Linked DNA regions of Homo sapiens: region 1 is linked to region 2. Evidence: fine-mapped expression QTL. A gene starts in region 2. The other region holds a variant in brackets. All regions are shown on one strand. Distances are from middle to middle. Region 1 holds the start of LOC105370970 (a long non-coding RNA gene). Region 2 holds the start of RCCD1 (RCC1 domain containing 1).

Region 1 (5,368 bases), 55 kb before region 2:
TATATTTTTAAAAGAGGTGGGGTTTTGCCATATTGCCCAAGCTGGTCTCAAATTCCTGAGCTCAGGCAATCTGCCCACCTCTGCCTCCCAGAGTGCTAGGATTACAGGCATGAGCCACTGCGCCTGGCCAAGGACAGATTTGTATTAACAGGGAATAATCCTACAAGTTAAAATAATCCTACAAGCCTCTCTATTACACAGAAAAACAAAATAGTTATTTTTATGAGTGTTCTCCACTTAACACCTTATCTAATCAAATTCTTTGACCTAATTTTATATTAGGAGGCATCTCTCTCTCTTCTTTGAGACTCCTTTGTTAATTATGAAGATTGGCAGTTTTCAGACCTGGCTCTGGAATTCCATTACTTAGCATTAAAAGTTAAAAGCAGGCCTGAAGATTTCAGTTTTCCTGGCAGAAATGAGTGAGGGAGGAATAGGATTCTTCTGTGTAACAGTAAAATAAGGAGCACGTAGCATTGATCTACATCTCACAGAGCTAGTATGAAGATGAAGACAAGTGATTCCTGTAAAACACTAAGAACAATGCCTAAACCATTTTAAGGGCTTACAACATTAGCTGTTAATAATGTCAACTCATTATCAGATGTGAGTGCCCTCAGCATTCTTTCTCATTACTTTAAAATATTCACCCTTTCCCCACTTACCTCAAAGGAGGAAGAGATCGTGGCCTTTTCCCTCCTAAGATGAGCTGTTCCATGCCAGTTCTTGGCCCCATTTCTGCTTTCCTTCTCCATTATCTTGCTTTACCAGGTAGACTTTCTCTTCTGCCTTCACCCATGTCTATGCCTTCTAAACAATGTCTCCCATTTCATCTCTTTTCCCTTTCAGAGCTCCCCCTTCTTTCAGGGCCAGGCTTCTGTGAAGAATGTTCTATTGTCACTGCTTCTGCTTCCTCATCTCCACCTTCATCGTTTCATCTAGTCTCCCTCAGGTCTCCGTTGTCAAATCCACTGGTGTCTATTTAATGTTAATCCTACTTAACTTCCCTGGCATTTGACACTGTTGCCCACCCTTCCTTGCAACTCTCACCTTTCCTGCCTTGACTGTTGCTGTTTTCTCCTGCCCCTGCTTCTCTGAGTATTCTTTCTCAGTCTTCCCTGCCAGGTCCTGTACTCTGGCCCCCTTTCATCTTGTGTTCCCTAGAGTCCTGTCCTTAGCTCTCCTCTGCGTGTTCTTTTCTCTTGGACAGACCATCTACTTTATTTATTTATTTGAGACAGGGCCTCACTCTGTTGCCCAGGCTGGAGTGCAGTGGCACAATCTCAGCTCAGTGCAGCCTTGACCTCCTGGGCTCAAGTGATCCTCCCACCTCAGCCTCCTGAGTAACTGGACTACAGGCACACACCACCATGCCCAGCTAATTTTTGCATTGTTTTGTAGAGATGGGGTGTCACTATGTTGCCCAGACTGGTCTAGAACTTCTGGGCTCAAGCGATTCACCTGCCTCGGCCTTCCAAAGTTCTGGGATTATAGGAGTGAGCCAGTGCACCCAGCCACATCATCCACTTTAAATACAGCATATATGCTACTTAATCCCAAGTCCTTGTCTGTGTCTCCCAAGGTCCCGTGGGCATGTCCTAAACAGAACTCACTCTCCCTTGTACAGATCTTTTCCTCCCATCTGCTCCTCCACAATTTCCAGAGCACTTCATGCCATTGCTCTCATCTCTGTCTGTACAACTTACCTTTTGAAGACAGCTGAACTCCTTCTCCTTTGTAAACCTCTTCCATTCTCTCAGGGAGATAAGAAGCAATTTACTCAAACATAAATTAAATGGATGAGAAAGAACTGAAGTGCTGGGCTGAATGATTCTAATGGTTCTTTCTAGATCTTAAGAGTCTGGGTTCTCTTGTCTTTCACTGGGTTCGGCAATTATTGTCCTCATCAGTGACCACAGAGGAACTCCAGAGAAATGGAGAGAACAGAGAAGAAGGTAGTTACTAATCAATTTCCTTTTCTCTTTCAGTTCTATGCGTGTGAGATGGTGCTTGAGGAAGAGGGAATCTATGGAGGTGAGAGGAGATGAATGTGAGTGGAAAGGGAAAGAGAACATACAGAAGAAAAAACTGTTGTTGTTCTCCAACCCCCCCACCCCACCCCCACCACCAGCTCCTTCTTTTCCTGGTCTTATTCCTGTTAGTGTAGCAGGAGGAGAGGTTCCTGAGAATGGGAATGGGAATAGGACCACGAATTAGAACACTACTGGGGGCTGGGCGCAGTGGCTCATGCCTGTAATCCCAGCACTTTGGGAGGCCGAGGGGGTGGATCACCTGAGGTCAGGAGTTTGAGTCCAGCCTGGGCAACATGGTGAAACCCCATCTCTACTAAAAATACAATAATTAGCTGGGCGTGATGGCGCACGCTTGTAATCCCAGCTACTCGGGAGGCTGAGGCAGAAGAATTGCTTGAACCCGGGAGGCAGAGGTTGCAGTGAGCCGAGATCACGCCATTGCACTCCAGCCTGGGCAACAAGAGTGAGACTCAGAGAAAGGAAGGAAGGAAGAAAGAAAGAGAGAGAGAAAGAAAATAAAAGAAAAGAGAGAAAGAGAGAGAGGGAGGGAGGGAAAAGAAAGGATAAGAAAAGAACACTCCTGGGGTAGTATGAAAGGAACACCAGGGCTTAGAGTTGGAAATGACCAGCCACTCTTTTCTCACCTTCCAAGGCTCCCACAGGAAAAACTGGGCCTCCCCTCTGTGTATTCCTCCGCTATTCTCCACACAACCCAAACCTGATCACAGCCCTCCCTGCTGGAAATAGCAGCGGCTCAATATAAAGCCCAGAATCCCCAACATGCCTCCTATCCCTTGCACAGTCTGGCCCCTCCTGTCCCATTAGCCTCATCGTGTGCTGCTTCCTTCTCCTGACTCGCCACCCTCCAGCCAGAGAGACTTTACCCATGCTTTTCCAGGTACCCAGAACGTTCTCCACCCTATAGCTTTTTGCCTTCCCGAGTCTTACCCAAATTCTAAGCTTGATTTTCTCTTCTTGAGGGAAGTCTTTCCTATACCCCCAGTTGTGGTTACATCCCTTTAATATATGTGCTCACAGCTTGCTGTTTGACCTCTTTGGAGCACAACCGTGATTTAATAGTTTGTGTCATAATTTGTCTGGTGTGTCTCCCTCACTAGACTGTAAGCTCCAGAAGGTTGGGAGCATGTCCATTTT[G/A]CTCACTGCTGTATCTCTGGTGTTCATACAGTCCTACATGTAGGCAGCTTTCAGTAAATATATGCTGAATAATGAATGAGTGAGCTGGGCGTGGTGGCTCACACCTGTAATCCCAGCACTTTGAGAGGCCAAGGCAGGCAGATCACCAGAGGTCAGAAGTTTGAGACAAGCCTGGCCAACATGGCAAAACCCCGTCTCTGCCAAAAATACAAAAATTAGCTGGGCATGGTGGCGTGCACCTGTAATCCCAGCTACTTGGGAGGCTGAGGCAGGAGAATTGCTTGAACCCAGGAGGCGGAGGTTGCAGTGAGCCGAGACTGCACCATTGCACTCCAGCCTGGATGAAAATTGCTAAACTCCATCTCTAAATAAATAAATAAATAATGAATGAATGAATGTTTTCTCGGCACTTTTGGTCAGCCCTCTAGTAAAAACCCACCACTTATCACATTGTATTACAGGCTGCTGTGGACACATCTCCTTTCCTTATCAGACTGTGAGCTCCTTAAGGGCAGGGACTGTGTCTTATTCTTCTTTGAGCCTCCATTGCTTAATGCAGTACTGGCATGTGGCAGGCACTCATATATTTGTTGCACGCACTCAAATATTTGTGGCGGACCTTCCCTCTTAACGTGGAGCTAAGTACCTTCTGCAGGGAGGCTGATGCTCTCTGTCCCCACAGATGTGAGCTGTGATGAATGGGCCTTCTCTTTGCTGCCTCTTGATGTGGATCTGCTGAGCATGGAACTACCAGAATTTTTCAGGGATTACTTTCTGGTAAATGCAGAGGCCCTTGTGTCTTGGCATCAGGGGATGGGGACAAATGTGGGATGCAGAGGGCTAGAAATACCAATATAACCTTTGTCCAACGCAAGTAATTTATCACAAGTGATAGTGATGTGGTGATTGAGTGCTACAGATTGGTCTCTGTGGGACTTCCTGTGGAGCCAATGAAAACCTTTCAAGCATCCCCCAGGCCCTGCCACCCTGCTCCAGGGCTTCTAGGGCTAGCCACTTTCCAGGTGGTCCTACTGGGTTGATTCATATCTTTGTGGCTTGTGTGGTCCCTGCAGGAAGGAGATCAGCGTTGGATCAACACTGTAGCTCAGGCCTTACACCTTCTCAGCACTCTCTATGGACCCTTTCCAAACTGCTATGGAATTGGCAGGTGCGCCAAGGTAAGAGCACTAGCAGTACTGTTGTCCCAGCAGACGCTGTTTTCCCTGTTCTGTACCCTCCTGGGGTTATCCAAGGGCACCTGTGATATGAGGTGTATTCTTTACTTTGCTTTCATTGTTCTGGAATAGATCCTCAGAGAGGAGAACTTGTGTGGCTAACAGAGAAGCAAAAGCCAGGATCTCCTGGGTAGCATTCCTAAATCTCTTTTTATTTTGGGGACAGAGTAACACATCTTCTCATCAGTAGGAAGAGTGTTGGGGAAAGATAGACACAGACGGGAGTAGATAGGGCCATATTGTGAATAATTAGCTCCTGTCTCGGGGACAAGAGGAAGTATCACGTGGAAAGGGCTGACTTCTGTAGGTATGGGGCTGCAGTAGGGACCTGGACACAAGACTGAGAATGTCTTGGGCCCTGGCAGATGGCATATGAATTGTGGAGGAACCTGGAGGAGGAGGAGGATGGCGAAACCAAGGGCCGAAGGCCAGAGATTGGACATATCTTTCTCTTGGACAGAGGTAAATTATGCCCAGCGTTCCTGTCATCTTTCAGCCCTAGAAGACACGGGAATATGGAAGGCGTGGTGGCAAAGTTAAAATCCTAAAGTTAGGGCTGTGAATCCCAGCTTTGAGGAGCGTGGGTCCTTGGCCCTATGGAAAGTATCAAAGCTGCCCTTGGACATGCTGTGTAGAAGGCTGGGTCAGGGAGAACCTTCATGGTCAGGGATCTCTGTTTCAGATGTGGACTTTGTGACAGCACTTTGCTCCCAAGTGGTTTATGAGGGCCTAGTAGATGACACCTTCCGCATCAAGTGTGGTAAGTGCTATGGTCCTCTGCATCTTGGCAAGATGGACGGGTCATCAGCCTTGGCACCTCCCACGTGGGGCAGGGTTTGTGGGAGAGACCCAGACCCTGAATGAACTGCTGGCTTCCAAATAGTTTGAGGACCTTTATGGCAGTTCAGGGAATGGTAGGAGAAGTCCTCATTGGAGATCCTAATA
Region 2 (5,368 bases):
CTGGGCCCACAATGGCTCCCCACGCAGCGCCGATTCGGCCGCCCAGACCTGCAGTAACGCCTCCGGCCCCGGCCCGGCGCGCAGCACCGCGAGGAGCCCCTCCGAGGCCCACGCGTCCTTGCAGCGGCCCGCCGCGCCGCTGGCTGAGCCCGACAGCTCCAAGCGGCCTCCACCTGCGGGGCGGATTGGAGCAGGGTGGCCAGAATGGAGGCGGCGGGGATGGGGGGAGCGGGGTGTTCCTGGGAAGGGGTCGAATTGGGGACCAACCCAGAATGTGGGGCTGGCGGCCTGAACGGGGGAGACAAACTGGACTGGCCACAGCGGTGCGGGGAGGCGACTGGGGAGCGCGGCTGGAATAAGTGGGGACGGGGCGGGGAGTGCTCACGGGTCACGAAAGCGGTGTAGCTCCAGCTCGCGCTCACGCGGCAGATGTCGACGCCCGCCCGCAGCGGACTGGGGCTGTGCACCTGGCGCCCGCGTCCGGAGCCCAGCTCCTGCCCGAAGCCGCAGAAACCGAAGCCGAACCAGGCCCCCGGCCGCTCCTCCGCCATGCCCGAGCAGCGCCCTCTGCCGGCCGCCGCCTGGCTGCGGCGGGCCCGGGGGGATTCTTGCGAAGAGCCCGCTAGTGGGACACTGGCAAGTCTCTGGCCTTCCAGGGGCTGGAGCTGCCTTATCTGTAAAATGGAGAAACTATCATTCTCCCGACCACAAAGGCAGAGTCCGTGCCACGAAGGTTCGCTGAGCAGGCGCCCTGACTAATGCCCTACCGGATTTACAAAGATGCTCAAATATTTAGAGGCACTTTCCCTGTCCTCCCTTTTGGCTCAAGCTCAGCGTGCCACAAAGTGGGTACGAAGTGGCCTGTCCTTTAGGCATTGGACTAGGATCCGAGCGCCCCCGACACCCCCACCCCGTCCCGCAGCTTCCCAGCATCTGGCACTTTATCCCATGTAATCTTGGGAACCAAAATGGTCGTTTTACAGAGGAGATTCTGAGACAAAGTAACCCTTACACACTCATACAGCCAGACAGAGAGGGGCAGAGCGCTGAAATCAGGTCCCACCAACTCCACACACAGTGCTCTGCCCCTCTCCCCACAGCGGAACGCAGAAGAGCGTTTGGGAGGCAGTGCCTCTGCAACTCAGCGGGGCCTTGGGACCGCAGCCAATCCACCTGAGTCCAACTGCGTTTCTTCAGTTTACAAAGGGAGGTGGGGGCGGTGCTGTTTGAACCTTCCTCACAGAATTGTAATAAATGCAAATAAAGGGTTTGGTGCGAGTACATGCCATGATAAACACACAGTATTAGCTTACTGAATCCAGTATTTAGTGTTGACAAAAAAATTATCCCTGGACATCTTACTGGTTTTGAGAAACTTATACAGACAGAATTTCAACTGTACCTTATCTAGCCATTTATTCGTCCAGCGAGCATTTACTGAGCGCTCCTCCTCTGCCAGTGAGGACAGCTGTCTGCTCCCAAGGAGCTAACCGTTAAATGGGGAGACAAACAGTCTGGTGGTTACAACAGCAACGCCAACTTCAAGCAGATTCGGCTGGAGCGGGTTTGTTTTTTTTTTTTTTTAATATAATAGAGACAGGGGTCTCGCTATGCTGCCCAGGCTGGTCTCAAATTCCTGGGCTCGAGTGATCCGCCCGCCTCGGCCTCCCAAAGCGTTGGGATTACAGGCGTGAGCCGCTGCACCCGGGCTGAAGCAGAATTGCATGGGCATTTTCAGGCCTCTTAAGTCAGATCCTGGGTCTCTCCTGAGACCCCAGTTCCTGGGCTCCTAACCCCTTCCGTGTCCTCTCCCAACCCAAGGGGGCCTCTGACCTTGATCTTGACCCTATGCCCTCTACCCTCTCGGGCAGGTCCTTCTGGTGGGCAGCCTTGGAGGAAACGCCGAGGCGCAGAGCGGCCGCCTCCGGAAAGGCCTCCCGCCCAGCGGGCGCCGACAGCCACGGGGAGAAAAGGTTTGAAGGGCGCGCGGCGCGAGGCGGCCAATCACCAGCAAGGGCGGTGACGTCGCCGCCCGGGGCGCGGCGGCCGCAGCCCTGTTCAACTCCCCTTGAGGGCCTCTCCGGTCCCGAGGCCTACGCCGGGGCCCTGCGGCCCGGTCTGTGAAATGGGCTGAAACCTCCGAGGGGCGTTGGACCAAGGCCCTGGAGGAAACCGGGGGCGTTGGACCAAGGCAGAGGTTGGGCCAGGTGGTCCCGCCCCTGCAGGAACCCGTGGGGCTGGAGCTCGGATTAGAACCACAGAGAGGACATTCATTAAGACTTGAGCTAAAGGTTTGGCGAGGAGTGACGCCCAAGACGGGCGGACCCCGCCACCCACCTCAGTCCCGGGACCGCGGCAGCTCAAAACCCGACACGCGCCGGACTCATGCCCCAACAGGAAGCAGCTTTTACCTTCCACGGATTGGCTCAGGACCCGTCACGTGCCTCTGTCGAGCCAACGAGCCTCACGCTGGGCTTAGCCCTCCTCGAACGTGCTGGGGTGGTGGGCGGGGCCCAAGCCGCCCTTCAACCAGGCTCAGCTGGCCACCAACCCCAACCCCCGCCCCAGCGCCCTCAGCGGAGGCCACAGAGGACTCCCAATATAAAGACAAACGTACTGAAGGCCCAGCATATGGGAGTCTCTACCCTAAACGACTTATTTCTTGGGATAGTTTAATATTTTTTGAGATAGGGTCTCGCTGTGTCGCCCAGGCGACACTTTGGGAGGCTGCGCTCTGGGCTCACTGCAACCTTCGCCTACCGAGTAGCTGGGATTACAGGTGCATGCCGCCACACTCTGCTCTTTTTTTTTTTTTTTTTTTTTTTTTGGTATTTTTATAGAGAAAGAGTTTTGCTTGTTGCCCAGGCTGGTCTCGAACCCCTGACTTCAAGTGATCCACCTGCCTCAGCCTCCCAAAGCGCTGGGATTACAAGCTTGAGGCACCGCACCTGGTGAGTTTCTTATTGATTAGCTTCCTAGGCTTACCCTTTGTCCCTCCAGTAGGATTAAGAAGCAACTCAGTGGGCCCTGGTTGGGGAATCCATTGGATTCCTTCCATGGAGGTGGGTCTGCCACTGTGAAGCTCCGTTGCACACTCACCCACGCCCAGCTCACACCCATACTCACCCACACTCACCCACTCAGAGACTCCCACTCACAGCAGCCCTCCCTGCCCAAGGACAGGGCACACAGTGGAGTTCTACACACTTTTATTGGAGGGGCAGGCCTGATAGCAGGCTCACAGCTGGTGAGGCTGCTGATGTGTGCGCCCTTCCAGATGCCCCAGGATCCACAGGCTGTGTTGGGATGCACCTTCCCCATTCCCAGCTGACTACAGTAGTACAGAAAAAGGGCCCCTCTGAGTGAGGCTGCAGGCAGTGCTGGCCAAGCAGGGCTGTGTGACTGAACGTGGCCGCTGACTCAGAACAGAGGACATCCTAGGGCAGCAAGCGAGGATGGGCAAGAGTATTGGGCATGCCAGCCACCACCAGCCAAAGCTGCTTCCGTCCTTACTCTCCGTGCCACAATAGGTAGCGTGTGCATGAGCCTTGGGCCCAGGGACAACCCCCTCACTCTCCATCTTGGTTGGGTTGGATAAGCCCATATTCCACTGCTTTGTCCAGGCAGGCTGCAGCAGCCCTTGTGACAGGGCTGTGGTCACCCTTAGCTAGCACTGACAAGATCTCCATCATCTCACTCTCCATCAGGGTGCTGGCAATCTCCCTCGAGGCCTCCACCATGTTCAGCACCACCACAGCACCCCGGTGCTGCAGCTCCTGGTTGGAGCTCAGAAGCAGGGCCTGCAGGATCTCCAGCCAGTGTGTGGTCTGTGAGAAAAACAGGGTAGATATGACCCCTGGGCAACAGGCTCAACCTTGGCAAGGGACACACCCACACACCCTAGGACTGCCCCCTTCAGCTGCTGCTGGGAGTTCCTGGTCCGTCCCTCCTCCCCCACTGAGAAGAGGCACTGACCACTTGGGGAATGCGGCTGCAGAGCGTGGGCCGCATGGAGGTAAGCATGGCCAAGCCCCCGGCAGCTGCCCGCTGTAGCAGCTCATCATCCTCTCCACTGTACAGCACCAGCAGCTTCAGTCGGTCATTGCCCTGGGCTTCGAAGAGGTCCTGCACCTGTGGCCAGATGTGAGGAGTGGACCAAGTCAGTTGGGTGTAAAGCCCAGCCAGGGCACAGGTACCTCTGCATCCCCGCCTGTCATGAGCACCCAGACCAACCCTCACCTCCTTGCTCATGGCCAAGTTACACATGCACTCCGTGGCTGCCCGGCGGATCATCTCATGCTCCTCAAACATGTAGCCTTCTATCATGGGCACAGCCTTCTCCTTCAGGATCTTCTGCCTGCAGGGCCACAGGAGGAAGCAGCAGGGATACGGTTTGGATGTTTTCCCTTCTAACCCTCATGTTGAACTATAATCCCCAATGTTGGAGGTAGGGCCTGGTGGGAGGTGACTGGGTCATGGGATGGGTCCCTCATGGCTTGGTGCTATCCTCGTGATAGTAAGTTCTCGTGAGATCTGGTTATTTAAAAGTGCGTGGCATCTCGGCCGGGCGTGGAGGCTCACGCCTGTAATCCCAGCACTCTGGAAGGCCGAGGCAGGCAGATGACTTGAGGTCAAGAGTTCGAGACCAGCCTGGCCAACATGGTGAAACCTTGTCTCTACTAAAAAGACAAAAAAAAATTAGCTGGGTATGCTGGTGCGCGCCTGTAGTCCCAGCTACTCAGGGAGGCTGAGGCAGGAGAAGCGATTGAACCCAGGAGGTGAAGGTTGCAGTGAGCCAAGATTGCGCCACTGCACTCCAGCCTGGGCAACAGAGGGAGACTCCATTTCAAAAAAAAAAAAAGTGTGTGGCACCTCCCCCGACTGTCTCTTGCTCCTACTTTCACCATGTGATGTGCCTGCTCCTGCTTTGCCTTCTACTATGAGTAAAAGCTCTCTGAGGCCTCCCCAGAAGCTGAGCAAATGCCAATGCCATGCTTACACAGCCTGTAGAGCCAGGAAGCAATTAAATCTCTTTTCTTTATAAATTACCCAGTCTCAGGTATTCCTTTACAGCAATGCAAGAACAGACTAACACCGGCAGCATCATCAGAGTTTCTACATCTGCTCCACCCCTGCACCCACACCCTCATGCAATCAAGTCCTGGGCTGAGGATTTCCCTTGGCAATGTCCAAGGACCCTCTTGCACCAGGTATGAACTACAGTGCTTCTTAGCCTTCTAACCAGGCCTAGGAAATAGCATAGGATTGTGGGAAATGCTCAAAATTAGGATGTAGAAGACCAGGGTGGTCGTGATGGTGAGGCTAACACCTAACATTTGAGGGTTTTTGTTTCTGTGTTTTTTTGAGG

What was found. PIP is the estimated chance that this variant, and not a neighbour inherited with it, causes the effect.
Region 1: its variant is the best candidate, but not a certain one, in a credible set for the expression of RCCD1 in lung (TOPMed, PIP 0.75).

What each region holds. Positions count from the first base shown.
Region 1 is chr15:91,006,467-91,011,834 of GRCh38, reverse strand. VPS33B (VPS33B late endosome and lysosome associated) reads left to right here. Exons shown (of 23, transcript NM_018668.5): 6 at 1,989-2,034; 7 at 3,871-3,965; 8 at 4,262-4,366; 9 at 4,789-4,885; 10 at 5,106-5,183. LOC105370970 (a long non-coding RNA gene) reads right to left here and starts at 1,281. Exons shown (of 2, transcript XR_932611.3): 1 at 666-1,281. The variant G/A (reference allele first, on the strand shown) is at 3,189.
Region 2 is chr15:90,951,918-90,957,285 of GRCh38, reverse strand. It overlaps RCCD1 (RCC1 domain containing 1), which reads right to left and starts at 2,402. Exons shown (of 8, transcript NM_001017919.2): 1 at 2,338-2,402; 2 at 386-674; 3 at 1-173. The coding sequence starts at 551. It overlaps UNC45A (unc-45 myosin chaperone A), which reads right to left. Exons shown (of 20, transcript NM_018671.5): 18 at 4,240-4,357; 19 at 3,976-4,131; 20 at 3,193-3,827. The coding sequence ends at 3,570. It overlaps RCCD1-AS1 (RCCD1 and UNC45A antisense RNA 1), which reads left to right and starts at 2,793. Exons shown (of 2, transcript NR_170325.1): 1 at 2,793-2,951; 2 at 4,081-5,048. RefSeq lists silencers at 276-325, 446-675, 1,906-2,035 and enhancers at 2,256-2,365, 2,166-2,720, 3,545-4,045.